Linked DNA regions of Homo sapiens. The protein of the gene in region 2 interacts with the protein of the main gene of each other region in a pairwise test. Each region holds a gene or a part of one and is shown on either strand. Other genes may lie near its edges. The genes, in order: ZMIZ2, INTS4 and MEIS3.

The links.
Region 1: the proteins of INTS4 (region 2) and ZMIZ2 interact in binary tests that used the Homo sapiens proteins (3 or more experiments, as listed by UniProt).
Region 3: the proteins of INTS4 (region 2) and MEIS3 interact in binary tests that used the Homo sapiens proteins (3 or more experiments, as listed by UniProt).

What each region holds. Positions count from the first base shown.
Region 1 is NC_000007.14:44,743,661-44,753,841, forward strand, and holds the start of ZMIZ2 (zinc finger MIZ domain-containing protein 2), read left to right. Parts: upstream 1-5,186; 5' UTR 5,187-5,331; intron 5,332-6,154; exon of another isoform or gene 6,155-6,320; intron 6,321-7,245; exon of another isoform or gene 7,246-7,431; intron 7,432-10,181. UniProt on the Homo sapiens protein: Increases ligand-dependent transcriptional activity of AR and other nuclear hormone receptors.
Region 2 is NC_000011.10:77,919,754-77,930,089, reverse strand, and holds part of INTS4 (integrator complex subunit 4), read left to right. Parts: intron 1-1,542; coding exon 1,543-1,748; intron 1,749-5,197; coding exon 5,198-5,340; intron 5,341-5,422; coding exon of another isoform or gene 5,423-5,444; exon of another isoform or gene 5,445-6,639; intron 6,640-7,618; coding exon 7,619-7,734; intron 7,735-8,616; coding exon 8,617-8,750; intron 8,751-10,336. UniProt on the Homo sapiens protein: Component of the integrator complex, a multiprotein complex that terminates RNA polymerase II (Pol II) transcription in the promoter-proximal region of genes.
Region 3 is NC_000019.10:47,401,605-47,411,844, reverse strand, and holds the end of MEIS3 (homeobox protein Meis3), read left to right. Parts: intron 1-2,297; coding exon 2,298-2,409; intron 2,410-2,597; coding exon 2,598-2,746; intron 2,747-4,209; coding exon of another isoform or gene 4,210-4,416; coding exon 4,417-4,493; intron 4,494-4,707; coding exon 4,708-4,766; intron 4,767-4,873; coding exon 4,874-4,957; intron 4,958-5,318; coding exon 5,319-5,368; 3' UTR 5,369-5,385; exon of another isoform or gene 5,386-6,417; intron 6,418-8,291; coding exon of another isoform or gene 8,292-8,431; 3' UTR 8,432-8,721; downstream 8,722-10,240. UniProt on the Homo sapiens protein: Transcriptional regulator which directly modulates PDPK1 expression, thus promoting survival of pancreatic beta-cells. Also regulates expression of NDFIP1, BNIP3, and CCNG1.

The DNA.
Region 1 (10,181 bases), on a different chromosome or scaffold from region 2:
AGTGCTGGGATTACAGGCATGAGCCATCATGCCCAGCCCATTCAATGCAATTACCCTCTAGGCTATAATCAAATTTCCCCAATTGTCCCAATAGTGTCCCTGCCCCAGTCTAGTTAAGGAGCATGGCATTTTCTTCTCTTGTCTCTAGTCTCCCCTAATCCAGACCTGTGGAGGCTAAAGCAAGTCCATCTTTGATGCCGATCTGCCATGATGACCTCTGATTAACCTCTGTTCTGGGAAGGCCTCTAAGATTTCCAGTTTATCTATTGTTCCTTGTGTAAGAGGCCTTATTGTAATTCCTGCCCTTAGGTCAAAACAGTCTTGATGTTATCATACCTCAATTGTCCTATACATCCCTTCAGGGTCACCCTTTCCCTATCCCATGTAAGCCCCTGATACACAGACAGGGCTTCAGCTCATGAGTTCCTATTAAATGTTTCTTTTGGAGAAACTGAATTTGTCAGCCTCTTTCTTTAACCTCTTAGCTTCCTCCGACTTTAGGGGCAGGCTTGCACAGACCTGCTTACCGAGAAATGAGACCATTTCCCCAGGCCTGACGTTCTCTGAGAGTCACAGACAGTGCTGGAGACTGAGCCTTTGTGTAGATCTGTCTTATTTTTTCATGATCAGATTCAGGTTGAACATTTCTGGCTGGAAATTCTACTTGAAGGAGTCTGTATCTTTTCTCTGAGTATCACATCAGGTACCCAGGATGTCAAATGGTCCCACTGTTGGTGTTGTTGACCTTGGTCATTTTGCTAAGGTAGTGTCTGACCAATGTTATTATAAAGGTTCCTTTCTCCCCGTATAATGAATTAGAGGCCTGTGGGAAGACTGTGTGCTCCGTAAAGGCTTTTCAGGAAACAAAGATGTTGGCATTGTGCAACTTTGTATGATGTTTTCAGTTAGCAAATTGTGACTGTCTGCTCATACCATTAAATATTCTTCAAAAACATGATTTCCAACCTGTGGGTGCGTTCTACTTAACTATTACCTACTAGGATGTAACTATTAGCTTGCTAACACAAGCTCCACGACAATGCAGATTTTCATCAGTTTTACTTACTGCCATGTTTCCAGCACTGAGAGTGGTATCTGGCACACAGTAGAAGCTCAACAGAAAATTGTTGAATGAATGAATACAGCTTGTGTGTAATTTTTCAATATCCTAATGTCACAGCAAACATCCTTGTAAATAAATCTTTGAAGTATTTATTTTGTGAGAAACACAGATAATGCTTGTAAGGGAAATGTTTATGTTGATAATGTGAAAAAATAAGAATGCAAAATCATACATATGCCATATTCTCCACAACATCAAGATATGCAAAGAGAACCATCTGGGAAAAAAACAGAGCAAACAATTGACTGGAATTATCTCTGAACAGTTTTAAGGTATTTTGAACATTTCTCTGTATTTTCCACAATGAGAATATACCGCTTGTATGCAAAGGAGCAGCAGCACCTTTCTCTTTTTTTTTTTTTTTTGAGATGGAGTCTCGCTCTGTCGCCCAGGCTGGAGTGCAGTGGCGTGATCTTCGCTGACTGCAAGCTCCACCTCCTGGGTTCACGCCATTCTCCTGCCTCAGCCTCCCAGGTAGCTGTGGCTACAGGGCCCGCCACCATGCCTGGCTAATGTTTTGTATTTTTAGTAGAGACAGGGTTTCACCATGTTAGCCAGGATGGTCTCGATCTCCTGACCTCGTGATCCGCCCACCTCGGCCTCCCAAAGTGCTGGGATTACAGGCGTGAGCCACTGCGCCCGGCCTACCTTTTTCTTTTTAAAGTTAGTTTTGCAAGTCAAGAGTCATAGTAACTGGGGGTACCCAAACTGGTTAAAAACCAAATTCAGGTTAAGGCCACACCAACTGTAGGAGACTGTGGACTCGCAGGAGCCCCTGGACGCTGGGCTAGGCTGATTACATTTAGGATATCAGGTTCCCTTTCTGGTGTCACATTTTAAAAGCGATATTGTCTAACTGGTGCCTGTCTAAAGGAGAGTGGCCAGTTGGTACAGGATCTGAAAATTGTGTTACTGTTAACACTTAAGGAACTGGGAGCATTATTCCTCCAACAGAAGACTGGGGGATTGAGAAGTTGCTTTTAATATTTGAAGAGCTGTCAAATAACAAAGTGATGATTCTTATTTTATGCACTTGTAGAGGAAAAGCTTCAATAAGGCAGTTTTTTTATTCTAGTAAATGAGGAAGACTTTTTTTTTTTTTTTTGAGACAGAATCTCACTCTGTCGTCCAGGCTGGAGTGCAGTGGTGTGATCTCGGCTCACTGCAACCTCCACCTCCCGGGTTCAGCAATTCTCCTGCCTCAGCCTCCCGAGTAGCTGGGACTACAGGTACACACCACCATGCCCGGCTAATTTTTGTACTTTTAGTAGAGACAGGGTTTCACCATGTTGGCCAGGCTGGTCTCGAACTCCTGACCTCACGTGATCTGCCTGCCTCGGCCTCCCAAAGTGCTGGGATTACAGGCGTGAGCCACCGCGCCAGGCAACTTTTTTTTTTGGGGGGGTGATGGTGGGGGGATAGAGTCTCGCTCTGTCACCCACGGTGGAGTGCAGTGGTGCGATCTCAGCTCACTGCAACCTCTGCCTCTCGGGTTCAAGCGATTCTCCTGCCTCCGCCTCCCGAATAGCTGGGAATACAGGTGCATGCCACCACACCTGGCTAATTTTTGTATTTTTAGTAGAGTAGGGTTTCACGCCACCATGCCTGGCTAATTTTTGTATTTTTTAGTAGAGACAGGGTTTCACCATGTTGGCCAGGCTGGTCTCGAACTCCTGATCTCAGGTGATCCACCCATCTTGGCCTCCAAAAGTGCTAGGATTACAGGCGTGAGCCACTGTGCCCGGCCTCAAGGAAGACTTTCTTAACAATTCATCATATAGTAGAAAATGAAAACATTCCCTAGAAAGGAGTGGACACCAGGTGGCCTTTCCCAGGGGAGCAGGGCAGGAATTATTGAAGCAGTTAGGAGGTGAGAGAGATGCCTGCCCTGGGGGCACCTGGGATGCTTGGCGTGGCCACTTCCAGCATCCTCCACAAACCTGCCTGCAACTCCCCCATACATGCAGCCTCTTCCGAGACAGAGGAATGGTCAGGGTCCCCTGGTGCCTGCCTCCCCCTTCATTTGGGTCTCTTCTTCAGGGCCAGCTCCACAGAGAATCCGTCCCTCATACCTCATCACTCCCTCCCCATTCTCTGGCCCTGATTTAGTTTTCTTCCTAACACTCTTTCTGACAGACACACTGTTACCTGTTAACTCATTTCCTTCTGTTTGTCCCCTCTAACATGCTTGCTGTATGGATGGAGGGGCCTTATTCTCCTGGTTCCTGGGGACAGACCAGTGTTCACAGACCCCAGACCAGGGACTGTTGTACAGCAGGCCTGCCATATTTGTTCAATGAACGAATGATTCCCAAAAGAAATAGAGCACAGAGTTCAGAGGCGGCCTTCAGGGAAGAAATTTCAACAATGTCAAAAATTAATTGTGGAGTATCCATTGATAGATGAATGGATAACTTAAATGTGGAATATGCATACAATGGAATATTATTCAGCCATAAGAAAGAAGGGGCTGGGCGCCGTGGCTCACGCCTGTAATCCCAACACTTTGGGAGGCCCAGGCAGGCGGATCACGAGGTCAGGAGATCGATTCCATCCTGGCCAACATGATGAACCCCGTCTCTACTAAAACACACACACAAAAAAATTAGCCAGGCGTGGTGGCGTGCCCCTGTAGTCTCAGCTACTCAGGAGGCTGAGGCAGGGGAATCGCTTGAACCTGGGAGGTGGAGGTTGCAGTGAGCCGAGATTGCACCACTGCACTCCAGCCTGGCGACAGAGTGAGACTCCGTCAAAAAAAAGAAGGGAAGGGAAGGGGAGGGAAGAAGGAAGGAAAGAAGGAAGGAAAGAAAGAAAGAAAGAAAGAGAGAGAGAAAGGAAAGAAAGAAAGAAAGAAAGAAAGAAAGAAAGAAAGAAAGAAAGAAAGAAATTCTGACACATGCCACAACATGGATGGAAGTGAGGACACTGTGCTAACTAAAGTAAGACTGTCACAAAAAGACATATAATGTATGATTCCACTTATACGATGTCCTTAGAGTAGTCTAATTTAGAGACGAATAGTGAATGCCAAAGGCTAGGAGGAGGAAAGAATGGGGAGCTAGTGTTTACTGGGTATGGAGTTTCCATTTGAGAAGATGAAAAAGTCCTGGAGACGGTTGGTGGTTGCACAAGAATGTGAATGTACTTGGTGCCACAGAACTACACTTGGAAACAGTTAAGATGGTAAGTTTTACGTTATGTGTATTTTACCACAATTAAGAAAAATTAATTATGGGTAGTTGAGAGAATGTGGTCTTCCTCAACTTACGGTAGGAAAAGTCAAGAATAACTTAAAGGCTGATAATAGCATTTCAAAGATCGAAACTGATCAGAGAGGCTATTCCATCAGGCTAGACTAGCTCAATAGTGACTTTTTCCAGAAGGAGAACCACTGGGAAGAGAGAACTGAGCAGTGAGGACAGCGAACTTGTTAAGTTTAGTTTTCTGCTTTAACGAGGGGCTTCCGGAGTCCTTTAATAAGATCCCCTCCCAAAAGTGGCACCCTGGGTCTCTCTGTCTCCCAGTCGTGTCCCCGCCCGCCGGGCCAGAGCAATGGACTCCCAGGAAGCAGGGGGGGCGCGGGCGGGGCGCGGGCGGGGCGGGTGGGGGAAGGGCAAGGACTCACTCTTCCTTTCCTCCTCCGCCGGGGCCCGCCCCGAGCCCTGGCCCCACCCCGGCTCTCTGGATCCGCCTCCTCCTCCCGACCCCGCCCCGGCACCTTGGCCCCGCCTTCCACTCGGCCCCGCCCCGGCGTCCTGGCCCCGCCTCCGCCGCCCGGCCCCGCCCCGCTCCCGGCGGACTGCGAGCAGGAAGAGCGCAGTGGCTCTGCCGACGCCGCGTTCAGAAAGGTGTGGAGGGGGCTGGGGGCGCAGGTCGCGATCAGGCTGCGTCTCCTGCCCGCCCAGCCACCTGCGGCCCTGGCCCCACCCTGCCGCTTTGGGCCGCTCGGGCTCGCGGCCGCCCCCGCCCCGAGCGCCGGCTCGGGGCTCTGCTGCTCTGGCCTGGGAGGCGGGGCCGGCTGCGCGGCGTCATGCATATGCATGAGCGGCGCGGCGGCGGCTCCATTGTGCCCTCGGAGCGGGCGGCGGCGCGATGGCGCGGGTGGCGGCGGCCCCGGGGCGGCGGGCGGCGCGGAGGGCGGGCTGAGCGCATGGAGCGGCGCGGGCCGGGGGCCGCCACGGCGAGGGGCCGGGCCAGGCCGGGCGGAGGTGAGCGGGGTCCTGGGGGTGGCCCCTGGCAACGCCGCCAGCAGGCAGGTGTGGGCCGGCGGGGGCAGGCAGGTGCGGCAGGTGCGGGCCGGCAGGTGCGGGCGGGCAGGCAGGTGTAGCTGGTCGCCCGGGGCGCCCCGGTTCCGCTGCGGCGCCACGGTAGGGTTCACAGCTGGGCTGGGGCTAGAGGCTCTGCCGCCCACCTGCCGGCACCTGCCACGCGTGCGTCGTGGTCTTGGGCAGGCTCGGCCCCGTGGGCGTCAGGGTCATCCAGCCCTCCCCTGAGTCTTTGTTGGAGGCTGGCCGAGGGGTGTAAGCGGCGCTCGGGGTTCTCCTGAGCGATGAAGGCTGGCCGGGCCTTCGCTCCAACCTGATCGTTCCTAGCTTTGGGGCCAGGCAGTCTCACCTACATGGTACGCCCCTCCGCTCCTACTTACGTGCCCACCAGCACGGCGATGTGGGGGCCGTCTGAGGCCGTCACCTGCTCGCGGAGGAGCTGTTCCGCTCCTGGGCTGAACGACGCTGAGCGGCCAGCCCCCAGCTGCCAGTTTTGATGGGGACACCCCTTTCCAAACTGGACATACTGAAGCTCAGGCGTGAGGATGCCCTGCTCCCCTGAGGTGCCTTGTCTTCCCTAGTGCCAGGTGTCCTTCACCGCGGCACCCCCACCCGGTGCCTTGTTTACCCCTCCACCTACCGTGTCTCTCCTCCCATTCCCTGGACCCTCTGCCCTGCAGTGTTCTGCCTCTCCTTCTCCCTAGGGTACCCTCTTTCCAGTATTACAGAACATCCATGGTGGTGTCTTTAATTTGTGTCATCGCAGATTTCACAGGGACACACACGGAACATGTGACTTGGTCTGAGACCGTGGTGATTACGGATAGGATGGACACAGACTCACCACCAAGTTCTGGCAAGCTAGAACCAGAGGGCATCCCTTGATGCTTAGTGTGGAAACAGGAGAAGTGAAGGAATCTTAACTTCCAGAGGTACTGACCTCTAGCCCTTGTCATGCCCAGGGGATAGTTACAAGCTGGAAGTGTAAATGAAGAGAACAAGCAGGTGACAGTTGCCGGTTGTAGATTTCTGAAGGACAGGCCTAAGATGTTTGGGGAGCATCCTGATTATTGGGATTGAGCTCCCAAGGGCTGATGACATGAAGGTGGTCATGTGTCCTCAGTCCTAGGATGCTACCAGATATCCATCTTACACATTGTAAACTGATGCCAGGTTAAGGTTGTCCCTTCAGCTGTTCACTGAAATGTCTCATGCCTGGGCCATTGCTTATTCCTGGACTTTTTGATGAACTCTGCATCCTGACTTAGCCCCACGCTTAGACATTTTAGTACTGTGGCCTTACAGGTAGAGGGGGCAGGACTTTCAGCTACCTGTATATGTGAGTACCCCACTTTTTGCTACCAAGGACCCCGCTCCTGCAACATTCCACAGCCATCATTTCTTCAATACCCTTTGACTCCATTGTCACCTGGGTTGGATCCTGACCCTGCAATCTTGGAGACAGTGAGTCCTGATGTGTGACCTATTGAGAAGCGTTGCCTGCCACAGGGCCCACTTGCTGGTCCTGCTCCTAGCTGACTAGGCAGGCAGAGAGGTGGCATGGAACAAGGCTCAGGAGGTCAACCAGGAGACTTGGGGGTGCAGCTACTCTGGGACATTTGGGGAAGAGAGGTCTGGGGTAGTGAGTTCTGTAACTCTGTCTAGAGGAAGATGTGATCTGACCCCCGAGAAAGCCTTGTGGCCCTCTAGACTGACCTTGTCCATCTCTCAAGGGGTCCTAGCTTCCAGCTGGAGTTAGTTTACAAGGAAAGCGCCAGGCACTAAGACCCTTGGTGGGCATGGGCCTTGCATGATCTGGGATCCAGATTCCAGGCTCCAGGCTTGTTCCCAACCCAGACTCAAAGCCAGGAGATGAGAAGAGGATCTGCACACACACAACGCAGAACACTATCCTATCATCAGGGGCACAGGGTCAAGGATACCAGACCTGGAGACTGGAAGTCTTTTCAGAGAGACTGTCCTCAGAGAGGAGACCAGAGGCATGAGTTCGGGTCGGCAGGAAATCCCCCTGTGCAGTGAAGAGTAAGCTCAGAGGGAACTGGAAATCTTTGTGGTCTCTGTCCACAGCAGAGAACCATCAGGGGTGGAATTCCCCAGGCTCATGTGACATAGGAGCCTGCTGTGGGCTCCTCCCCTCCTTGTACCTGCCCTGTGCTCCTTCTCCCCAGCTCACTGCATTTCCTAGATCTGAGGTTCTCAAACTACAGTTCCTGGACCAGCAGCAGCAGTAGCTGCAAACTTGTTAGAAATTCTGGGCTTAGGCCCCAGCCCATCCTACTGACTTCAGGTGGGGCTGGGCAGCCTGTCATCACCAGCTGCGAGCTGGTTTTGATGTGCTGCAGTTGGGGAGCTGCTGCCCTAGGTGACCTAAAATGAGGCAGTGCTGCACAGAGTGCTGCCTGCACTTTGAGGCCTTTGACCACGGGCGGGGGAGGGGGCACATCTGCTTGCCTGCCAGATTCCCTCTCTGTTCTTGGGACAGCAAAGTGGCCAGCCAACCCAACCAGCTTTCTAGTGGGGAAAGATTGTCACAGCAGTTCTGCGGAGACAGAAGGCTGGTGGTAGCAGTTGTATTGTAATTAAACTTTTTATTTTGAAATTATTGGCTGGACACAGTGGTGCTCACCTCTAATCCCAGCACTTTGGGAGGCCGAGGTGGGTGGATCACTTGAGGTCAAGAGTTCAAGACCAGCCTGGCCAACATGGCGAAACTTCATCTCCACTAAAAATACAAAAATTAGCCAGGCATGGACTATGGTGGTGTACACCTGTAGTCCAGTTACTCAGGAGGCTGAGGCAGGAGAATCGCTTGAACCTGGGAGGTGGAGGTTGCAGTGAGCCTAGATCGTGCCACTGCACTCCAGCCTCGGTGAAAGAGCAAGATTCCATCTCAAAAAGAAAAAAAAAAAATTAAAGATTCATGTGCATTATAAGAAATGACACAGAGAGATTTATTCTGTCCTTTACCCAGTTTGCCCCAATGGTAACATCTTGGAAAACTAGTACAACATTGCACCAGGACACTACACTGATACAGTAAAGAGGTTACAGCCTGTTGCCTTCTATTTTTTTTTTTTGAGATGGAGTTTCACTCTTGCTGCCCAGGCTGGAGTGCAATGGTGCGATCGGCTCACTGCAACCTCCACCTCCTGGGTTCAAATGATTCTCCTGCCTCAGCCTCCTGAGTAGCTGGGATTACAGGCGCCCACCACTACGCCCGGTTAGTTTTTGCCCAGCTAATTCTTATGTTTTTAGTAGAGTTGGGGTTTCACCATGTTGGCCAGGCTGGTCTCGAACTCCTGACCTCAAATGATCTGCCCACTTCAGCCTCCCAAAGTGCTGGGATTACAGGCGTGAGCCACCGTGCCCAGCCTGTTGCCTTCTTATATTCACGCCCACCTTCCTCCTGCCAAAATTACAGAAATGGAGAAGAGATTAGTACCTTTCTCTTTACCCCCACATTTAACCCCTGGCAATCACCAATCTGTTCTCCATTTCCCTAATTTTGGTGTGTCAAGAATGCTAAATAAAGGAATCGTACACCGTGTAGCCTCTTGGGATTGGCTTTTTCCACCGAGCATTAATTCTCTGGAGATTCATCCAGGTTGTTGCATATATCAGTAGTTCATTCCTTTATATTGCATCCGGGCTATGGATGTACCACCGTTGATTTAACTCTTCATCCATTGAAGGACATCTGGGCTGTTTCCATTCCATAGCTCTTGCAAATAAAGCAGTTATAAACATTTGTGTACAGGTTTTTATGTGAACATAAGTTTTCATTTCTCTGAGATAAATGCGTACAAGTGCAGTTGCTGGGTCATAGTAGGGTAGCTGCTTGCTTAGTTCCATATGATACGGCCAGACTGTTTCCCAGAGTGGCTGTACATTTTACATTCCCACTAGTAATGTGTGAGAGATCCAGTTTCTCCTTGCCAGCATTTAGTGATGTCACTATTTTTTATTTTAGCCATTCTGATGGATGTATAGTGATATCTCACTGTGGTTTTAATTTGCATTTCCCCACTGACTAGTGATGCTGAGCATCTTTTCTTATGCTTATTTGCCATCTGTATATTCTCTTTGGCAAAGTGTCTCTTTATGTTTTTTGCTTATTTTCTAATTGGAGTTTTTAATTTTAATTTTTTTTTTTTTTAGTTTTGAGAATTCTTTTTTTGTTTTGTTTTGTTTTTTAAATCATGGTTCACTCTGTCATCCAGGCTAGAGTACAGTGGCATGATCATGTCTCACCCCAGCCTCCACCTTCTGGGGTCAAGTGATCCCTCCACTGCAGCCTCCTGAAAAGCTGGGACCACAGGTGCATGCCACCACGCCCAGCTAATTTTTAAATTTCTTGAGGAGTCGGGGGTCTCACTCTGTTGCCCAGACTGATCTTGAACTCCTGGGCTCAAGCAGTCCTCCTGCCTCGGCCTCCCAAAGTGCTGGGATTATAAGTGTGAGCCACTGTGCCTGGCTGAGAATTCTTTATATGTTCTAGATACTAGTCCTTTGTTGGATATGCAGCTTGCAAATATTTCTCCTGGCCTGTAACTTATCTTTTCATCCTCTTAGCAGGGCCTTTCCCGAAGGAAAAATTTTAATTTTGATGAAGTCCAGTTTATCAGTTTTTTTCTTTTATGGATCATGCCTTTGGTATCAGGTCTAAGAGCTCTTTGGCCTAGATCACAAAGATTTTCTCCTATATATTTTCCTGAATATTTTATAGATTTATGTTTTACAGTTAAATCTATAAACCATTTTGAGTTACTTTC
Region 2 (10,336 bases):
ATCCTAGCCCTTAGTACTGCACCTAGCATATAATACGTGTTCAGGACCCACTTATTAGTGAATCAAGAAAGGGCTTCCTCGGATCAGTGGCTTTATTGTTTACATGTTCTGAGCATGCCAAGGGGTGGAAAACATGCCTCTGTTTTCAGGGTACTTTACAGAACCCAAACCTATACCCTAGGTGATACTTACTGAGCCCTTAAAATATGCCAGGCAGGGTCCCTATGTGGTTTACCTGTATTATCTCATTTAGTCCTAACAACTCTGTAAGGAAATGAGTATTATCTCCACTTACCAGGCGAGAAATTTGAGGTGCCAGGAAGTTGAGTTACTTATTCAAGATCACCCTCCAACTTAGTGGAGGGATCATTCACTACAGTTTGCTCTGAGACCTCTATCATTCCAAGCGTGTATCCTTAACTACTATATGATTTTAGCCTACAATCAACAGACCTGAGTATTGGTCCTATTCCTGCCCTCATTCACTTTGAGGCAAGTGAATCCACATTGCTGAATCTTACCTCTAAAATTCGAACAATGATATTTAGTCTACTTTAATCTTAATGATAACATTATTTACTAACTGACTTTTTAAAAAGTACTGTGGTCAGAATACTGAGATAAGTAAGACAATTTAATTTTCAAGAAGTTAATGTAGACAGACATGTGACTTCATCACATATATGTGGTGTCAGATTTAAGCCATAGTCCTTGTGATACTAAAGTCCATGTTCTTAGATCGACGTTAAGGTGGGTGGTATGTGAAACTGTGGGCATAGAGATCTCCCAGGGAGAGTTTATAGAATGAGAGGAGTAGAGAATAGAAGACAGCCTGAAGGAGAAGGAATCCATCTTGGACTTATCCCATGGCTCTTAATTTGATATGAGTTACTTTATATATATATATAAAATATGGGGCTTCAGTGTGTTGCTCAGGCCAGCCTTGAACTCCTGAGCTCAAATGATCCTCCCACCTCAGCTTCCTGAGTAGCTGGGACTTTGGTGTATGGCACTGCACCTGGCTGATGTGCAGTTTTTGTTTTTTTGTTTTTGGAGTTTTTTTTTTTTTTGAGACAGGGGCCCACTCTGTCACCAGGATGGAGTGTAGTGGCACGATCATGGCTCACTGCAGGCTCAAACTCCTGGGCACAAGTGATCTTCCTGCCTCAGCCTCCCAAGTAGATGGGACTATAGGCGTGTGCCACCACACTTGGCTAATTTGTTTTTTGTGTGTTTTGTTTTGAGATAGGGTCTCATTCTGTCACCAGGCTGGAGTGCAGTGGCATGACCTTGGCTAACTGTAATTTCTGCCTCCCAGGTTCAAGTGATCCTCCCTTCTCAGCCTCCCAAGTAGCTGAGACAACAGGCGCACGCTACCACACCCAGCTAATTTTTTAATATTTTTGGTAGAAACAGAGTTTTACCACATTGCATAGGCGGGCTCAAGTGATCTGCCTCCCTTGGCCTCCCAAAGTGCTGGGATTACAGGCGTGAGCCACTGTGCCCAGCCTGATGTGCAATTTCATTTGTTCTTTTTTCTAGAGGTTCGTATTGCTGCTGTGGAGGCCCTCTGCATGTTGGCCCAGTCTTCACCCTCTTTTGCTGAGAAGTGCCTTGATTTCCTAGTTGACATGTTCAACGATGAAATTGAGGAAGTACGTCTGCAGTCTATACATACCATGAGAAAAATCTCTAACAACATCACCCTCCGAGAAGATCAGCTTGACACTGTCCTGGCTGTGCTAGAGGTGAGTGTTTCTAATTTGTTACTCATTTCTTCATCCCTCACCCCCCCCTGTTAAAATCAGGTATTGTGCTAGGCATTGGTGACAGAACACTATATCAGGGAGCACAGTTCTGTTTTCTCACCATACCCCTTCCCTAAGATGGAAGAAATTGACTGTGAAACAGGAAATTTGAATAAGCTTGGTCTTTCTGTGATCAAGAAAGGATAGGATGCCTAGGGAATACATAGTGTCTAACCTGAATTGGCTGAGGTGAGGTTGGGAAGAAGGAGGAAGTGCTGTAGTGGACACTTGAAGGAGGAGTAGGACTTAACTAGGCTTTTTTTTGCCTTCTTCTTTTGAGACAGGGTCTCACTCTGTCACTCAGGCTGAAGTGCATCTTTTTTAAAGGAGAAGTGACACTGGTGGTAGGATGAAAGGGTACCAGACAGAGGGAGCAATGTCTAAAGATGCAGAGATAAGACAGAATATGATATATTCAAGGAACTAAAAAGAGTTTATTATAATGATAGTGTAGAGTTGAAGAGATGGAAGAGTGGAGGACGTGGCTATAGATAAGGTAGGGGCTAAATAATGAAGAGTTCTTTTCAACCTTTAATTTGATTTTATTCTTGTAGTGAATCATAGGCTGTTATAGCAGCAAGTGATCTTAGGGATTGATTCATTCTACCCTGGGAATTTTATAGAGAAAAAAATAAGTTGTTTGAGTTAGTGGCTGAACCAGAATGTAAACAGAGAGTTGCTTCCCAGGCCATACAGCTCTAGGTGGTTCTTGTATTATTTTTCTAAAATGTCTGGATTTTAATTGCAACTACTCAAGTTCTTCAGAGTATTCATAAATGGGGTTTGTCCTCTGGTTTCCTTTTTTGGGGAAGATGGGGTTCAGATGTGAAAGGGATAGTGATTAGGTGCTTAGTTTTTAGAACACTTGTAACAGATTTCTACTGCGTACTTTAAAGAATAGCTGGTGCTTTGGTTTTGAAGGTCCCTACCATTCTCTCAGCTGCTTAGCACTTCTACTGAGATTTTTCCTGAATTATAAATCTTTATAATTTTTTCATGTATTTTTTCCTAAAAATAAGTTTACATTCTATGTGCGGTTCTTCATGGGTGGCCTCATACATAGCCTAGCCACTCCTTTCCTTTTTAGCTTTCTTTTCCACCATTCCTCACCTTGAACTTTATGCTGAAGTCACTTTCCTACACATATTGCTTTTCCTCACAATTTTACCTTCAATGTAATTTTCCCCCACAGTTTGCAAAACTGCCACTTTAACCCAGGAGACGTCCACTTATTCCCACAGCCTATATTAGGTAACATATCCAGGAAGCCTTCCCTAACTGTTACTCCCAGCACTGGGTGGGCTAAATGCCACCACTCTATTCCCATAGCACCCTGTGTATACTGCTGTAGCATTTTTCAGTAATTCTCTATTTCATAAGACTGTGAGCTCCTCAAGGTGTCTTGACTTTTCTTTTCTTTTCCTTTCCTTTCCTTTTTCCTTTCCTTTCCTTTCCTTTTTTTTTTTTTTTGAGGCTGAGTCTCGCTCTGTTCCCCAGGGTGGAGTGCGGTGGTACGATCTTGGCTTACTGCAACCTTCACCTCCTGGGTTCAAGCAATTCTCCTGCCTCAGTCTCCCGAGCAGCTGGGATTACAGGCACGCACCACAATACTAATTTTTGTATATATTTTTTTTTTTAGTAGAGATCGTGTTTCACCATATTGGCCAGGCTGGTCTCGAACTCCTGACCTCAAGTGATCCACCCACCTTGGCCTCCCAAAGTGCTGGGATTATGGTGTGAGCCACCGTGCCCGGCTGACTCTTCATTTTTTTATTACCAATGTCTTGCAGCAGTGTCTGGCACAATTAGGTGCTCGGTAAGTGTTTGCTGAGTAGCTGAGCTATGTTCCAAGCTATGTTTTGATGTACAGAATTGTTCACAGGTATGCTTATTTGTGAGTACTTATGTATATAACTCACAAAGAATCCTTGCCTTTTAATTCTTTTCAGGAGTTCAGACCAATATAAACTTACAGTAGACTATTCTTCCACCCTGCTGTGTACTTCTCCCTTATATTTTCTGTGTCACTGGGCTTCATTGCTTTGAGCCTTACCTTGCTGACCCTTCCAGCTGGAATTTGCCTTTTTTTTTTCCTGCTATGTCAAGATCCTACCCTGCCTAGAAAAATTCACTTCTTTATTCAACAAGCACTGTCTATGTATTAGAAATATAGGGATATCAAAACAGGCAGGATCCCTGCTGTCATAAAACTTATATTCTAAAGAGAGGTGGAGTAAACAAACAAAATGATTTCAGATGGTGATAAATGTTTTGCAGAAGATAAACAGTATGATTGAGGAATGGGGAATTTCTCTGTAATTTGAGTGGTTAGTAAAGACTTTCTGAGGAGATGATGTTCAAGTTGAGTCTTGAATGATAAACAGAAGCTAGCTATGTGAAGACTGGGAGAATAACTTCAGGTAGAGGCAACAGCTAGTGGAAAGGCTCTAAAACACAAGTGAGCTTTGTTGTGTTTGCAGAATAGAGAGAAAGCCAGTAGGAGTGAACCACAGTGAGAAAGTAGAAATGTGGCATGAGATGAAGTCTGAGAGGGGATTAGGGACAGGTGGAGAGCCTTGTAGGCCATTTTAAGATGTCTGGATTTTATTCTAACATTATGGAAAACTGTTGCAGAATTTTATGGATAGGAGTGACATTTCGATTTGCCTCTCTTTTAATATTTCTCATTCTTGAAATCTTGAAATTCACTTCAGATAGATTGACTTTTTCCCTCACTCCTCCATTTAACACATACAGGTATACCTCTCTTTATTGGGCTTTGCAGATATTGTGTTTTTTTAATAAATTGAGAGATTGCGGCAACCATGCATTGAGCAAGTCTATCGGTGCCATTTTTCCAATAGCATGTGCTCACTTTATGTCTGTGTCACATTTTGGTAATTCTTGCAATATTTCAAACTTTTTCATTATTACATCTGTTACAGTGATCTGTGATCAGTGATCTTTGATGTTACTGTTGTAATTGTTTTGGGATGCCACAAACTGTGCCTGTATAAGATGGCAAACTTAATAAGTATGTGTGTTCTGAGTGTTCTGCTAACTGGCCATTCCCAGCCTCTCTCTTAGCCTTTCTTCTTAGCCTGTCCTTTTTCCTAGTTGCAAAAAGGCTCTTGTACCTTCAGCATCATGATTGAGTTCCAGATAGGATGGAAAAGGAAGGTTAAAGAACAAAGGGGATAAAGCTACTGCCTCTGGTCCTTTATCAATAAAATGAAAGATATTTCAGGAATTTCAGCTAAAAAACTTCCACATACTTTGTTACATGGCCACCCTAGATGGGAAGGTGGCTGGGTAGAAGGGGATGGTAGATAGAGGCTGAGTCTGCTAACCAACAGTAACTACTGTTATTATTACTTTTTTTTTAAAAGGATTCATCCAGAGATATTCGAGAGGCTCTTCATGAACTCTTATGCTGTACTAATGTTTCAACCAAAGAAGGGATTCATCTTGCATTGGTGGAGCTGCTGAAAAATTTAACCAAGTACCCTACTGATAGGGACTCCATATGGAAGTAATGACTTTTTTGCCCATTTACTCACTGAGTCCCATAATGTGGTAAATGTATAATGCTGACATTTGTTCCGTCCTTATAGATTGAGGATAGTACGGCCCTGAATTTTGCCTTTACTTTAGAAACCTGATTCAACTTAACCGAACTCTCAGGAATCTGATTCCTAAGCTGAGTATCACATTTTAGATTACTTACTAATTTGTGCATCTATCCACCTAGCAAATATTATGTGCCTGCTGTGTGCTGACTATGCACCAACCCTTGTGGTAGCTGTTACAAGTATAGAAATAAATTAATTAGATTTCCTCTTTCTCCTATATAGTGTTTTGTTTTGTTACTTTTTTTTTTTGAGACGGAGTCTCGCTCTGTCACTCTGACTAGAATGCAGTGGCGTGATCTCAGCTCACTGCAACTTCTGCCTCCTGGGTTCAAGCGATTCTCCTGCCTCAGCCTCTCGAGTAACTGGGATTATAGGTTGCATGCCACCATACCCCAACTAATTTTTGTTTTTTTTTTTAGTAGAGATGGGGTTTTACCATGTTGGTTAGGCTGGTCTTGAACTCCTGACCTCAGGTGATCCCCCTGCCCCGGCCTCCCAAAGTGCTGGGATTACAGGCATGAGCCACTGTGCCTGGCCTTATTATTTTTTATTCATTAAGTTCTGGTTTAGAAGGTGCACTAAATTGGCTGGGTGCAGTGGCTCACGCCTATAATCCCAGCACTTTGGGAGGCTGGGGCGGGTGGATCACCTGAGGTCAGGAGTTCAAGACCACCCTGGCCAACATGGTGAAACCTCATCTCTACTAAAAATGCAAAAATCTGCCGGGCCTAGTGGCACACGCCTGTAATCCCAGATACTTGGGAGGCGAAGGCAGGAGAATTGCTTGAACCCTGGAAGCAGAGGTTGCAGTGAGCCGAGATTGTGCCACTGCATGCCAGCCTGGGCAGCAGAGCAAGACTCAGTCTCAAAAAAAAAAAAAAAACCATAAACAATAATAAAAATATATAATTACCTTGCTTTTATAGTTCCTTATAGTTTATAAAGGGCCCTCATGTAGTTATAATAGCTAACATTGAGTTCTTACTATGTGACAGACACTTTGCTAAGTACTTTATGTTAGTTATTTAATGCGTATAGCAACTCTATGAAGTAATGACTTTTAATCTCATTTTGTAGATGAAAAAATTTACTTGCATAAGGCTACTTAGTTTCAGACAGATCTGTGATTTCAGGACTTCACCCAGGATATCAATCAGAATGTTTTTGCCCACAAATAAAAAAGACAATCTGATTAAAAATATCTTAGCCAATAAGTCTGTTTTTTCATAACAAGTGGTCAGAAGGTTGGTTTCAGGATTCGTCATTCAACAGGTTACCAGGGCTCTCTTTGGTTTCTCTGCAGTTCTCTTGGCTTTTTTTTTTTTTTTTTTTTTGAGACAGAGTCTCTCTTTATCGCCAGGGTGGAGTGCATTGGCATAATATTGGCTCACTGAACCTCCGCCTTCCAGGTTCAAGTGATTCTCCTGCCTCAGCCTCCCGAGTAGCTGGGACTACAGGCCCGTGCCACCATGCCCAGCTAATTTTTGTATTTTTAGCAGAGATGGGGTTTCACCATGTTGGCCAGGATGGTCTTGATCTCTTGACCTCCTGATCCAGCCACTTCGGCCTCGCAAAGTGTTGGGATTATAGGCGTGAGCCACCACACCCGGCCGGCTTTCTTCTCATAGTTGTAAGATGGCTGCCTCATAAGATAATATCTCAAGACAGAAAGGAAGGGTCATTCCCTTTCATGCATTGCTCTTTTGATTTGCAAAAACATCCCTGAGAAGCTCCCCAGCCAGCATACTCTCGTGCTCCATTGTCTAGAACTGGCTTACTTGCCCACCAGCAAACCAGTCACTGGAAAATGGGAATGGGATTGCCATGATGGGTTTAGACCAATAGTGGTTCAGCTCTTGGGCTGGACCTGCCTTTTCCGAGCACTTTGCTGCCTGCCTGATACCTGAGTAAAATCAGGGCTCTCTCAGGAAGAAAGATGGGGGAAATGGCTCTTGGTTAAATAACCAGTTCTTTTATCTTTATAATAACCAGTTTTTTTAGATGAATTAACCGAGTTCCAGAATAACTGGGTGACTTATCTGAAGTCATAGAGTTAGCAAAAGTATATGGTTGAGAATTTCCAATTCCAGTTCAGGTTTTCTGATTCCAGTTCCTAGTACTTTTCAAAGGACTAACTTTACTAATTTGTTGATGTGCATTCTTATTTGTTTGTTTCAGGTGCTTGAAGTTTCTGGGAAGTCGGCATCCAACCCTGGTGCTTCCCTTGGTGCCAGAGCTTCTGAGCACCCACCCATTTTTTGACACAGCTGAACCAGACATGGATGATCCAGCTTGTATCCTCTGTGCTTAGGATGGGCCCTGATGTGTTGGCAGGCAGCTTTGGCATCTCCTTCTGCAGTATAGCTAGGGTAGTCTGAATTTTCTTTTCTTTGCTTTTCTTTCTTTTTTTTTTTTTTTTTTGAAGACAGAGTCTCATTCTGTCACCCAGGCTGGAGTGCAGTGGCCTGATCTCGGCTCACTGAAACCTCTGCCTCCCGGGTTCAAACAATTCTCCTGCCTCAGTCTCCTGAGTAGCTGGGATTATAGGCGCCCGCTACCACACCCAGCTAATTTTTGTATTTTTAGTAGAGATGAGGTATCACCATGTTGGCTAGGCTGGTCTCAAATTCCTAACCTGTTGCTTGGGCTGGAGTGCAGTGGCACCACCCCAGCTCACTGCAACCTCCGCCTCCCGGATTCAAATGATTCTCCTGGCTCAGCCTCCCAAGTAGCTGGGATTACAGGTGCCTGCCACCACTCCCGGCTAATTTTTGTATTTTTAGTAGAGACGGGGTTTTACCTTGTTGCCCAGGCTGGTCTCAAACTCCTGACCTCAAGTGATCCACCCACCTCAGCCTCCCAAAGTGTTGGGATTACAGGCGTGAGCCACCATGCCTGTCCAGTATGTACTTTGATAGGCAATATAGTTGCTTACTTTATAGGCAAAATCATTTCCATTTTTTGTATTCTTGGCAGTCTCTGGCATTTTTAAAAACCTTTGGTAATTGGGGGTGTGGGTGGAGTAGGGGAATGTATTTTGTTGTTTGTATTTGCATTTCTTTGATTATTAGAAAATCATAGTCTCTTGATGGAGATTTTGGAGGTGGAAAGTGAGAGTGCCAGAATCTGGCCAACCTTTTATACTTCCAAGTTTACTTAACCCAGTCATCTATCAGATATTGCAGTTTTGGTACTTATTTTCAATGCTGCTAAAACCTGTCCAACAATGCCAGCATTGTTCTCAGATCACACCTTCAGGCACTATGCCTACCTCCGAGACAGTCTTTCTCATCTTGTTCCTGCCTTGAGGGTATGTTGAAAACATCTGTTGTCCTTGTTTTTATTTTGCATGGGGTAGGGTTATTTTTGTTCATGTTTTCCTTTGAGATGGGGGTCTTGTTATGTTGCCCAGGGCGGTCTCAAACTCCTGGGCTTAAGCCATCCTCCTGGCTCAGCCTCCCAAGTCACTGGGATTACAGGTGAGCACCACTGTGTGCAGCTTGTTTTTGGCTTTTTATTTTTTGTGCTTTGTGGTTATTAAATAGTAGAAAGCAGTCCATATATTCTCTGAAAACTTGTTTGTTCATTCTCTTTCTCTCTTGGGCTCTTTGCCATTGTTTTATACTTTTGCTTTTGTATCCTTTACCTTTTAAGATGATTCATTTTTTTTGGTGTCCCTGGGTTATTGATATTAGGCAAGAAGAAAGGAACCTGGAACAATAGATTATATTTTAGATCAAGAATTTAAATTGTTATATATATATATTTATTTATTTATTTTTATTATTATTACTTTTTGAGACGGAGTCTTGCTCTGTCGCCCAGGCTGAAGTGCAGTGGCACGATCTCGGCTCACTGCAAGCTCCACCTCCCAGGTTCACTCCATTCTCCTGCCTCAGCCTCCCGAGTAGCTGGGACTACAGGCGCCTGCCACCACGCCCGGCTAATTTTTTGTATTTTTAGTAGAGACAGGGTTTCACCGTGTTAGCCAGGATGGTCTTGATCTCCTGACCTCGTGATCTGCCTGCCTCGGCCTCCCAAAGTGCTGGGATTACAGGCATGAGCCACCACACCCAGCCTAAATTGTTATATTTTAACTATTACATATAGCTATGATTCTCCACAAGTGCTTATTTTTTAAAAATAAAACCTTTACTATTTTTAAAACCTAGAGTTATATAGAAGAAAATTTAAAAATAGATCATAATAATAATAGCAAACACTTCGTGAATGCTGTGGCTCAGGTACTCTTCCAATCTCTCTATTTGCATTAACTCATCCCTGCTTGGGTGACTCCAAATCACTTTATTTGGAGTAATATGTGTTTATTTAGAGGAACATTTATATATATGTGTGTATATATATATATGTGTATATATATGTGTATATATGTATATATGTATATATATGTATATATGTATGTATATGTGTATATATATGTGTGTATATATATGTATATATATGTGTATATGTATATGTATATATATGTGTATATATATATATGGTTAGAAAATTTAAACTTTATAGAAAATACAAAATGAGGCCAGGTGCGGTGGCTCATACCTGTAATCTAAGCATTTTGGGAGGCCAAGGCGGGTGGATCATCTGAGGTCAGGAGTTCATGACCAGCCTGGCCAACATGGTGAAACCTCATCTCTACTAAAAATACAAAAATTAACTGGGCATGGTGGTGGGCACCTGTAGTCCTAGCTACTCGGGAAGCTGTGGCAGGAGAATTGCTTGAACCCAGGAGGCAGAGGTTGCAATGAGCCAAGATTGCGCCACTGCACTCCCGCCTGGGCGACAGAGCGAGACTCCATCTCAAAAAAAACAAAAGACAAGTAGATACAAAATGAAAAGTGAAATACTCTTTGCTCTCTCCTCCCCATCCATCTT
Region 3 (10,240 bases), on a different chromosome or scaffold from region 2:
GATAAGGCCGGGCACGGTGGCTCACACCTGTAATCCCAGCGATTTGTGAGTCTGAGGGGGGTGGATCACAAGGTCAGGAGTTTGAGACCAACCTGGCCAACATGGTGAAACCCCATCTCTACTAGAGATACAAAAAATTAGCCGGGCATGGTGGCACACACCTGTAATCCCAGCTACTCGGGAGGCTGAGGCAGGAGAATCGCCTGAACCCAGGAGGTATAGGTTTCAGTGAGCTGAGATCATGCCATTGCACTCCAGCCTGGGGGACAGGGCGAGACTCCGTCTCAAAAAAAAAAAAAAAAGAAAAGAAAAAGATAATACAGCCCCAGACCCCCTTAGCTACAATTCTGAGACCCCAGAATCTCTGAAACTTCAAAGTTTTGGATTTTGTCCCATAAATTTAGTGCAAACTCATTTGGCAGCAAAAGCTGACCTGAACTAATGAGGGGCTATTTATAGCCTTTATTTATTCCACTTAGTTAAATACTCATCCATGTTGCTATGGAAATGTTCATGAGTTTGATGACGAGGTTGTGCCCCAGACCCTGCCTAGGATGGTTGCGAACTGCATGGTGTATGCGCTGATTTATTGCCTAGAAATGTGAAATGGGCCTGGCGCAGTGGCTCACGCCTGTTATCCAAGACTTTGGGAGGCAGAAGTGGGTGGATCACTTGAGCCCAGGAGTTCGAGACCAGCCTGGCCAATGTGGTGAAACGCCGTCTCTACTAAAAATACAAAAATTAGCCAGGTGTGGTGGCAGGCACCTGTAATCCCAGCTACTCGGGAGACTGAGGCATGAGAATCACGTGAACCTGGGAGGCAGAGGCTGCATTGAGCCTAGATCATGCAACTACACTCCAGCCTGGGCGACAGAGTGAGACACTGACTAAAAATAAAGATAAAAATGTGAAATGTTCGGAATCCTGAGACACTTCTTGCCCCAAGGATTTTAGATAAGATGCCATAGACCTGTGTAAGGTCATCTTGTTTGAGCCCCTGTGTAGACAAACTCATCATTGAATACTGGCCACACACTGTCAGGACTATTATTGTCCTTCATTTTCCTTTTCTTTTTTTTGAGACGGAGTCTCACTCTGTCACCCAGGCTGGAGTGCATTGGTGTGATCTCGGCTCACTGCAAGTTCTGCCTCCCAGGTTCATGCCATTCTCCTGCCTCAGCCTCCCGAGTAGCTGGGACTACAGGCGCCCACCACCACGCCCAGCTAATTTTTTGTATTTTTAGTAGAGACGGGGTTTCACCATGTTAGCCAGGATGGTCTCGATCTCCTGACCTTGTGATCTACCCGCCTGGGCCTCCCACAGTGATGGGATTACAGGCATGAGCCATCGCGCCCGGCCCTTCTTTTCCTTTTTCTTTTTTTTTTTTTTTTGAGACGTAGTCTCACTTTGTCACCCCGGCCAGGCTGGAGTGCAGTGGCACAATCTTGGCTCACTGCAACCTCCCCCTCCCGGGTTCAAGCGATTCTCCCGCCTCAGCCTCCCGAGTAGCTGGGATTACAGGAACCCACCATCATGCCCAGCTAATTTTTGTATTTTTGGTAGAGACAAAGTTTCACCATGTCGGCCAGGCTGGTCTTCAACTCCTGACCTCAGGTGATCCGCCTGCCTCGGCCTCCCAAAGTGCTGGGATTATAGGTGTGAGCCACTGTGCCCAAGCCAGCCTGGTTTTTGTATTTTTAGTAGAGATGGGGTTTCACCATGTTGGCCAGGCTGGTCTCAAATGCCCGACCTCAGGTGATCTGCCTGCCTCAGCCTCCAAAAGTGCTGGCATTACAGGCGTGAGCCACCGTGCCTGGTCCTGTCCTTCATTTTCCAGTTAAGGAAACGGAGGCTCAGAGTGGGGAAGTGACCTGCCCAAGATCACACAGCTAGGAAGGAGGCAGGGACTGGCTTCCCATCCAGGAGTCCTAGCTCCAGAGTCCATGCCCAAAGCCTTGGCACTAACTTTTTTTTTTTTTTTGACACGGAGTCTTGCTCTGTCACCCAGGCTGGAGTGCAGTGGCGCAATCTCGGCTCACTGCAACCTCTGCCTCCCGGGTTCAAGCGATTCTCCTGCCTCAGCCTCCTGAGTAGCTAGGACTACAGGTGCATGCCACCACACCCGGCTAATTTTTTGTATTTTTAGTAGAGACGGGGTTTCACCATGTTAGCCATGATGGTCTTGATCTCTTGACCTTGTGATCTGCCTGCCTTGGCCTCCCAAAGTGCTGGGATTACAGGCGTGAGCCACTGCGCCCGGCCGCCTTGGCACTAACTTCTAACTCTTGTTTTCTAGAATAATATGTGGATTCGAGACCATGAGGATAGTGGGTCTGTACATTTGGGGACCCCAGGTCCATCCAGTGGGGGCCTGGCCTCCCAGAGTGGGGACAACTCCAGTGACCAAGGTGAGAATCTTGGGAGGTGGAAGGGAAACATGGGAGTCAACCAGAGGATTGAAGTTAGATCGCAAGTAAGACTTGTAGAGGGGCAGAGATGGCTGGGGTGTGGAGTGTTGTCTTGGGGGAGAGTTCTGGGGCCCTCTGGTCCTCCACTCTTCACTACCCACACACACAGCATGCCTGCCTTCCCTCAGGAGACGGGCTGGACACCAGCGTGGCCTCTCCCAGTTCTGGTGGAGAAGATGAGGACTTGGACCAGGAGCGACGGCGAAACAAGAAGAGGGGGATCTTCCCCAAGGTGGCCACCAACATCATGCGAGCCTGGTTGTTCCAGCACCTCTCGGTGAGAGCCCTGCTGCCCAGGTGCAGGGTGGGAATGGAGAGAGGGAGAAGGGTGGACCACAGAGACCGAAACCCCAGAGAAACCCAGAAGTGGGAGAAAGACGGCAGGAAATTTTTCGAGACTCTCATGGAGGTGGAGAATTGTGACAGGAGCCAGCAGCACTGAGTGTCACCTGAGTGCAGGTGCCGCTCAGGACACTTAACTCACTAAGTCCTCCCCGAAAACTGTCCATTAACCCGCGCATCAATCATCCACCTGCCCACCATCCACCCAGTGTACCCTCGGAGGGAGGGGCTACTATTATCTCCATTTAACAGGTGAGGAGGAGACTGAGGAACAGAGAGGTTAGGAGACTTGCCTAAGGTCACACAGCCAGAAGTGGATTCAAATGCAGGCAGTCTGGCCTTAACCACCGCACCATACTGCTTCAAGGACAGAGGAGAAAAATAGAGCCAGGAAGAGGCTAAAACAGAGAGACACAGAGATTCGGGGAGGACCAAGTCAGAGCAAGATGGAGACAGGGAGAGGCCGAGTCACAGAGGGACAGAGACAGACAGAAACTCGGAGGCAGGGACGGACTGAATCCCAGAGAGAGAGAGAGATACAGACAGAAACACACACACACAGAGATAGTGAGTCAGAGAGAGAATGTGAGAGCCACAAAGAGAGAAATGGAGGGCCAGACACAGTGGCTCATGCCTGTAATCCCAGCACTTTCGGAGGCCATGGCAGGAGGATCACTTGAGCCCAGGAGTTCGAGACCAGCCTGGGCAACATAGCAAGACCCCATCTCTAAAAAAAAAAATTAGCCAGGCATGGTGGCACACACCTGTGATCCCAGCTACTCAGGAGGCTGAGGCCGGAGGATTGCTTGAGCCAGGGAGATTGAGGCTGCAGTGAGCCATGAAGGCGCCACTGCACTCCAGCCTGAGTGACAGAGTGAGACCCTGTTTAAAAAAAAGAGAGAAAGAGAAAGAAAGAAATGGATAGGGAGGGCTGGGTGCGGTGGCTTATGCCTGTAATCCCAACACTTTGGGAGGCCGAGGCGGGCGGATCACGAGGTCAGGAGATCGAGACCATCCTGGCCAACATGGTAAAACCCTATCTCTACTAAAATACAAAAAATTAGTCGGGCATGGTGGCGCGCACCTGTAGTCCCAGCTACTGGGGAGGCTGAGGCGGGGAATCCCTTGAACCCCGGAGGCGGAGTTTGCGGTGAGCAGAGATCGCGCCACTGCATTCCAGCCTGGCGACAGAGCAAGACTCCATCTCAAATAAATAAATAAATAAATGGATAGGGAGAGGGCCACACAGAGACTCTGACAGATTCAGAGAGGGAGGGCCTGGGCTTTGCTTCCCTCCCCGACGCCAGTGAAGCCCCTCCCCCACGCCACAGGAGCCCCCTCCCCCAACACAGTCTCTCTAATCAGAGCTGGCCAGTTAACCTCTAATTGCTGGAACAGGCGGGGGCTGGCAGGCATGTAATTGCCCCAAGCCTGAGGCTCCCTTGGTCTCCATCCTGGGGAGCGCAGAGACGCTCAGAAGCGCCGGTTCTCCCAGACGTCTGCCTGGGCCTGGGCTCCCCATCCCCCGGACCCCGGTGGGCCAGACCTTGGGGTTCAGACTGCGGCCGGCCAGGCAGGCAGAGTGACTCTTGCTGGTGGCTGCAGCACCCGTACCCCTCGGAGGAGCAGAAGAAACAGCTGGCGCAGGACACGGGGCTCACCATCCTGCAAGTCAACAACTGGTGAGTGGCCCAGGAGGGCCCGCGGGCCGGCCCGGGGCGAGAGCCCGGGCGCTGTCCGCGGTGCTGACGGAGGCCCCGAGCCCCGCAGAGCCACTGCCCCTGCTCGCCCCGCTCTGCCTCCCCCGCCGCTGTCCTCCGGCCCGCTCTGTGTTCGTCTTGGCCTCTCTCCCACTCCCTCTTTTCATTCCCCTCCGTTTCCATGACCGCCTCCCAGGTTCATTAACGCCCGGAGACGCATCGTGCAACCTATGATCGATCAATCCAACCGCACAGGTACAGGGGGAAGGCGGGGACGGAGAGCCTGGGGTTCTTAGGAGGGCGTCAAAGCCGGGTCCCGGGCTTCCTGGGGCTCAGCCTGCACCTCTGAACCCCCTTCGCAGGGCAGGGTGCAGCCTTCAGCCCAGAGGGCCAGCCCATCGGGGGCTATACCGAGACGCAGCCACACGTGGCCGTCCGGCCTCCGGGTAAGCCTCGCCCCCTTAGCTAGGCCCCGCCCCTGCGCACCATGACCCACCTGTAAAACAAAGATGCCCACCTGAGATTCAATTCAAGCGGAATACAGTGTGTCACTTGCCTAGTGAGAAGCAGGTGATGCCAAGGCAGATTTCCTGGTCCCCCATCTTTTCCTTACAACCTCATTTCTTCCAGACTTCAAGCCCAATACCTCGGAAGGCTCCACTTTTTCTTAAAGGGCCAGCACCTTCTTATGACTCAGTCTATCCTGGTAGAGGGATCCCCTGGTGTAGGAAGGGGTGAGGGAGACTTAGAGGCATCTGGGGGTGTCTCTGAAAGACGCACTTACCCTCCTTTTTTTTTGTCTTCCAGGATCAGTGGGGATGAGTTTGAACTTGGAAGGAGAATGGCATTATCTATAGAGGCTGATGCAGGAGAGGTGTGAGGGTCTAAGGGCTGGGGATTGTGCAATTCTCAAACCTCCATTAGACCTCAGGACTCCAAGAGTGGGCACTTCCAGAGTAGTGGGTCAGCCTGGGTCCCTGTACTGTGGGTTCTCTGAGGCTTGATGGGAAGATATTCATCCATCTGTCCGTCCGTCCATCCATCCATCCATCCATCCATCCTCCTCCTCCATGTATCCATCCATCTACCCACTCACTCACCCATCCATATCTTTATCCATCCGTTACTCAATTACTCATTCACCCGCAATCCATCCATCCAAACCTAGTCCACCCACCTACCCACTCATTACCCATCTGACCACACATTCACCCACTCACTCCATTCATCTCTCCACTCGCCAACCCACTCATCCATCTACCTCCACACTGACCAACCACCCACACATCTACCCATTTATCTGTGCATTCACCCACCTCCCTACCCAGGCTTCCACCCACCTACCCATCAACTCACCCATCCATCCACCCACACATCCCATTATCCATATATCCACCCACCCACCACCCACTATCCATCCATCCATCCATACCTACATACACCCATTCATCTATGATACATCTCCAAACATAAACTGAGCCCTTGGCTGGGCACGGTAGCTCACGCCTGTAATCCCAGCACTTTAGGAGGCTGAGGCAGGTGGATCACCTGAGGTCAGAAGTTCGAGACCAGCCTGGCCAACATGGTAAAACCCTGTCTCTACTAAAAATACAAAAATTAGCCAGGTGTGGTGGCATGTACCCATAGTCCCAGCTACTCTGGAGGCTGAGGCAGGAGAATCACTTGAACCCAGGAGGCGGAGGTTACAGTGAGCCAAGATCAACCTGGGCAATAAAGTGAGACTCCATCTAAAAAAAAAAAAAAAAAAAAATTGAGCCCTCACTCCATCCTGACATGCCTCAGGTAGGGTCTGGATCTTGAGAAGATTCTGGTCTTGTGGGGAAGTTGGCAACCCCAGTGACAATCCAGTGTAACAGTTCAAACAATAAAACGTAGTTTCCCCATAGGAGGGAGTCATCAGCTATCTCTGGGGTATCAGGGAAGATTTCCTAGAGGAAGTGGCCTCTGGATGGGGCACTGAAGGATGAATAGGAGTCCACTGGGCAGAGTAGGGAGTAATGTGGAAGGGGGGCATTATTTGACTTTCCCAGGCCTTGAGTCTTCTGTGGCCTGGTATGATGGCGGCACTTTAGAGCATCTTCTCATTTAGTCCTTACAACGATCCCGAAAGGGGAGACTATTAACAATTTTAATTTCATAGATAAGAAGACTGAGGTTCAGAGAGAAGAGGTCACTTGCACAGGTCTACCCTGCTCACAAAAGCAGAGGGAACAGCATGTGCAAAGGCCCAGGGTAGGGAGGCAGCCTAGAGTTTCCAAAGCCCAGATCAGAGTTTGACTCTCTCTGGATTAAACCATTTGTGGCTCCCTAGTGCCATCTGGACAAAGTCCTAACTCCTTAGTTTAGCATCCATCTGTCCATCCATCCCCTGAGCCCCTCTGTGCCCAGCCCTGTGCTGGGTAATGTTGGGGACACAACAGTGACCATGACAGCCTCAGCCCTGCCCTCATGGGGCACAAAGTCTAGTGAAGGGGACAGACCCATCCCCAGATGGTGATGCCCCAGAACGGGCAGGGCTGGGATGGTGAAGCCAAGGAACTGGAGGAGCTCACAGGGGGCGGGTGTTGGACCTGGGATGGGGGGAGGTGTTTAGAGAGGGCTTCCTGGAGGAGGGGGCATCTGACCCAGACTAGAGGATTCAAGGAGGGCTGCCTGGAGGAGAGGACTTTGGAGGTGAGACCAGCAGAATGGGAGGAGTGAAGCAGGAGAGGAGCATCTGCAGAGGGAATAGCACGTGCCAAGGCCAGGAGAGCTTGGAAATCTCGTGGCTGTGAGACAGCCCCAGCCCCCTACACACAAGGAGGAAGTTCTCTTTGGACTGGGTTGAGGCAGGCGGCCGGACAGGTGGCTAATGAATTCAGGGCCAGCAGAAAAGCCCTGGGGATGAGAGTGGAGGCCTGCACAGGGCTTATGCATGGAGGCGGGTGCTGGAGGCCGAGCCTGGGAGAGAGATGGGCAGGCGTATCCAGGCCAGGTAGGGCAGTGGGCGACTCAGCTCTTTCATGGCCAAGTGTGGGTAGGGATGGTCTGGGGTGAGTGTCAGGGGACCTTTGGGGTCAGTAGTGATGGAGGGGTCTTCTCATCCCACTGCCTGGCTGCCCAGTGGGCTCTTTTCTCTGCTCCTTTCTGTCTCCTTTTCTGTCTCTCCACTCCTGATCATGGCTCACTGTAGCCTCGACCTCCCCAGGTTAAGCGATCCTCTGGCCTCAGCCTCCCAAGTGGCTGAGACTACAGGCGTGCGCCACCATACCTGGCTAATTTTTATTTTTATTTTTGTAGAGACGGGTCTCGCTTTGTTCCCCAGGCTGGTCTCGAACTCCTGGGCTCAAGCGATCCCCCTGCCTCTGCCTCCCAAAGTGTTGGGGTTACAGGCATGAGTCACCGCGCCCAGCCTCCTGTCTCTCTTTCTCTCTCTCCATTTCGTCTATTTCTTCATGACTTCTTCTCTCTCTTCCCATGTCGTTCTCTCTGACTCCCTCCAGGTCTGTCTCTGTCCTACTCTGCCTGTCTCTCTCCTTGTTCTCTGTCTCTGTCTGTAGGTCTCTCCCTCCCTCACCTCCACTCTGATTCTCTGTCTCCCTCTTTCTCGTCACTGCGTCTCTTCTCTCTGTGACCCTCCCACATCCCTGTGCCATTCCCCGCCAGCCACTCTCTCTGTGTCCCCCTCACATTGGGGCTGATGAGGCCTGCACAGATGGGCTGGGGTGGGGCCAGGCCCCCTGCCCGCTCCTGACTTGGCCTCTCCTCCCCTCTCCACAGACCCAGCCTCCGGCTGTGACCCCCAGCCTCACACCTGCCTCTGGTTCCCGCCTGGTCCTCCAGCTTCAGGACCCCACCTCCAAAGGCCCCTCTGCTCAATGCCTACCTCCCTAGGGCCCTGCTGGGACATGGGGGCCTGAGTGCCCATCCAAGGGCTCTCAAGGACACCGGCAAGGCCTCCAGGCCCTGAGCCCCACTTCTGCCTTCACCTCTGCCTGGGACCCGAGCTGGGCTCCTGGGCCTTGGTCCCCAGAAGATGGCGGCTAGGGCCTCGCCGCCAGGACAGAGAAGGGACGGGGTGGCTGGGCAGTCAGGGAAGGAGGGTCGCCCGGATCCGACATTTTGGAGAGATTCCTTCACTCTCCTGTCCCCCCTACCTCCCTTCTCTAATTTCTTCTTTTTTTTAATGATAAAGTCTTAAAAACACGGAGCCACCAACTGGAGTTCTTGTGTCTATCCCAAGATTTCAAATTCTTACCAATTTGAAGCTCGTAAATCACGAATAAGAATACTGATTGGCCGGCTGCAAGCACGATGGCTCACGCCTATAATCCCAACCCTTTGGGAGGCCAAGGCGAGTGGATCACTTAAGGCCAGGAGTTCAAGACCAGCCTGGCAACATAGTGAGACCCCATCTCTACGAAGCAAGCAAACGAATTGCTTGGGCATGGTGGTGCACGCCTGCAGTTTCAGCTACTTGGGAGCCTCCCAGAGTGCTGGGATTACAAACGAGCCACCAGGCCTGGCCAAGACTCCACCTCTTAACTAGAGGGAGCTGCAGAATTCCTGCAAGAGATGTGTGTGCAGGGGAGAATGAAGACTCAGGGCCACGCCTGCGTCACTTCACCAGCTGTGGCTGTCCAATCACGTCCTCTGTCCCATGGGAAATGAGCAGGTTAGGCAGGCACACCCTCACTTCCAAGGCTTCCGGACGGACGTGGGTTTGAATCTCGCCTCTGGAACGCAACAGCTATGGCACCTCGGGTTACGACTTCACCTGGCTGGGCCCCGGTTTCCACATCTGGAGAATGGGGAGAGCGGCCGTGCCTGTCTCGTAGGATGATTGTGCTGATGGTGGAGGTATTTCGAGGGACACATGGGGAACTGTGCCACGTGTGTCAGCGCCCATCACAGGCAGAGGCTGTCCTTTGTAACTAGGAAAACTGAGGCTCAGAAACCAGTGTGAGTCCCTTGGGGTTCTCAGTTTTCCAGATCTCTGTCCCCTCCACCCCCCAGAGAGAGAGACCACCAAGGCAGAGTGTGGATCGCTCCCCTGTTTGGCTCTGTCTCTCTCCCTCTGGTACCTTTTTTTTTTTTTTTTTTTTTTTTTTTTGAGAGGGAGTCTCACTTTCTTGCCCACACCAGGCTGGAGTGCAATGCTGGGATCTCAGCTCACTGCAACCTCCACCTCCTGGGTTCAAGCGATTCTCCTGCCTCAGCCCCCTGAGTAGCTGGGATTACAGGCATGCGCTACCACGCCCGGCTACTTTTTGTATTTTTAGTAGAGACGGAGTTTCACCATGTTGGCCTGGCTGGTCTTGAACTCCTGACCTCAGGTGATCCACCCACCTCCACTTCCCAAAGTGCTGGGGTTACAGGTATGAGCCACCGCGCCCAGCCATTCTTTCTGTCTCTGTCTTGTTCAGACCTTGTCTCTCTCTGTCCCCTTCCCCACTGGAAACCCACATCTTCGGGGCCTCCCCCTCCCTTCTCCTTCAGAGGCCAGGTGAGCTCTTTCCTTCAGACCCGGGCTGCTTCGTCTTGGCTCACTGCCTTCCAGTCCCCTCTCCCAAGTGCCCCTCAGCCCCTCCGCCATCCAAGCGCCCCCTTTGCCATCCTCTCCCCAGAGCCATCCTTGGACCTCTGAGTCTCTCGGGCACCCCCAACCACGTACACTGCTGCTCTGTGCTCAAGGCCCAAGGGGCACGTGTGTGGGTTTTTGAAGGACC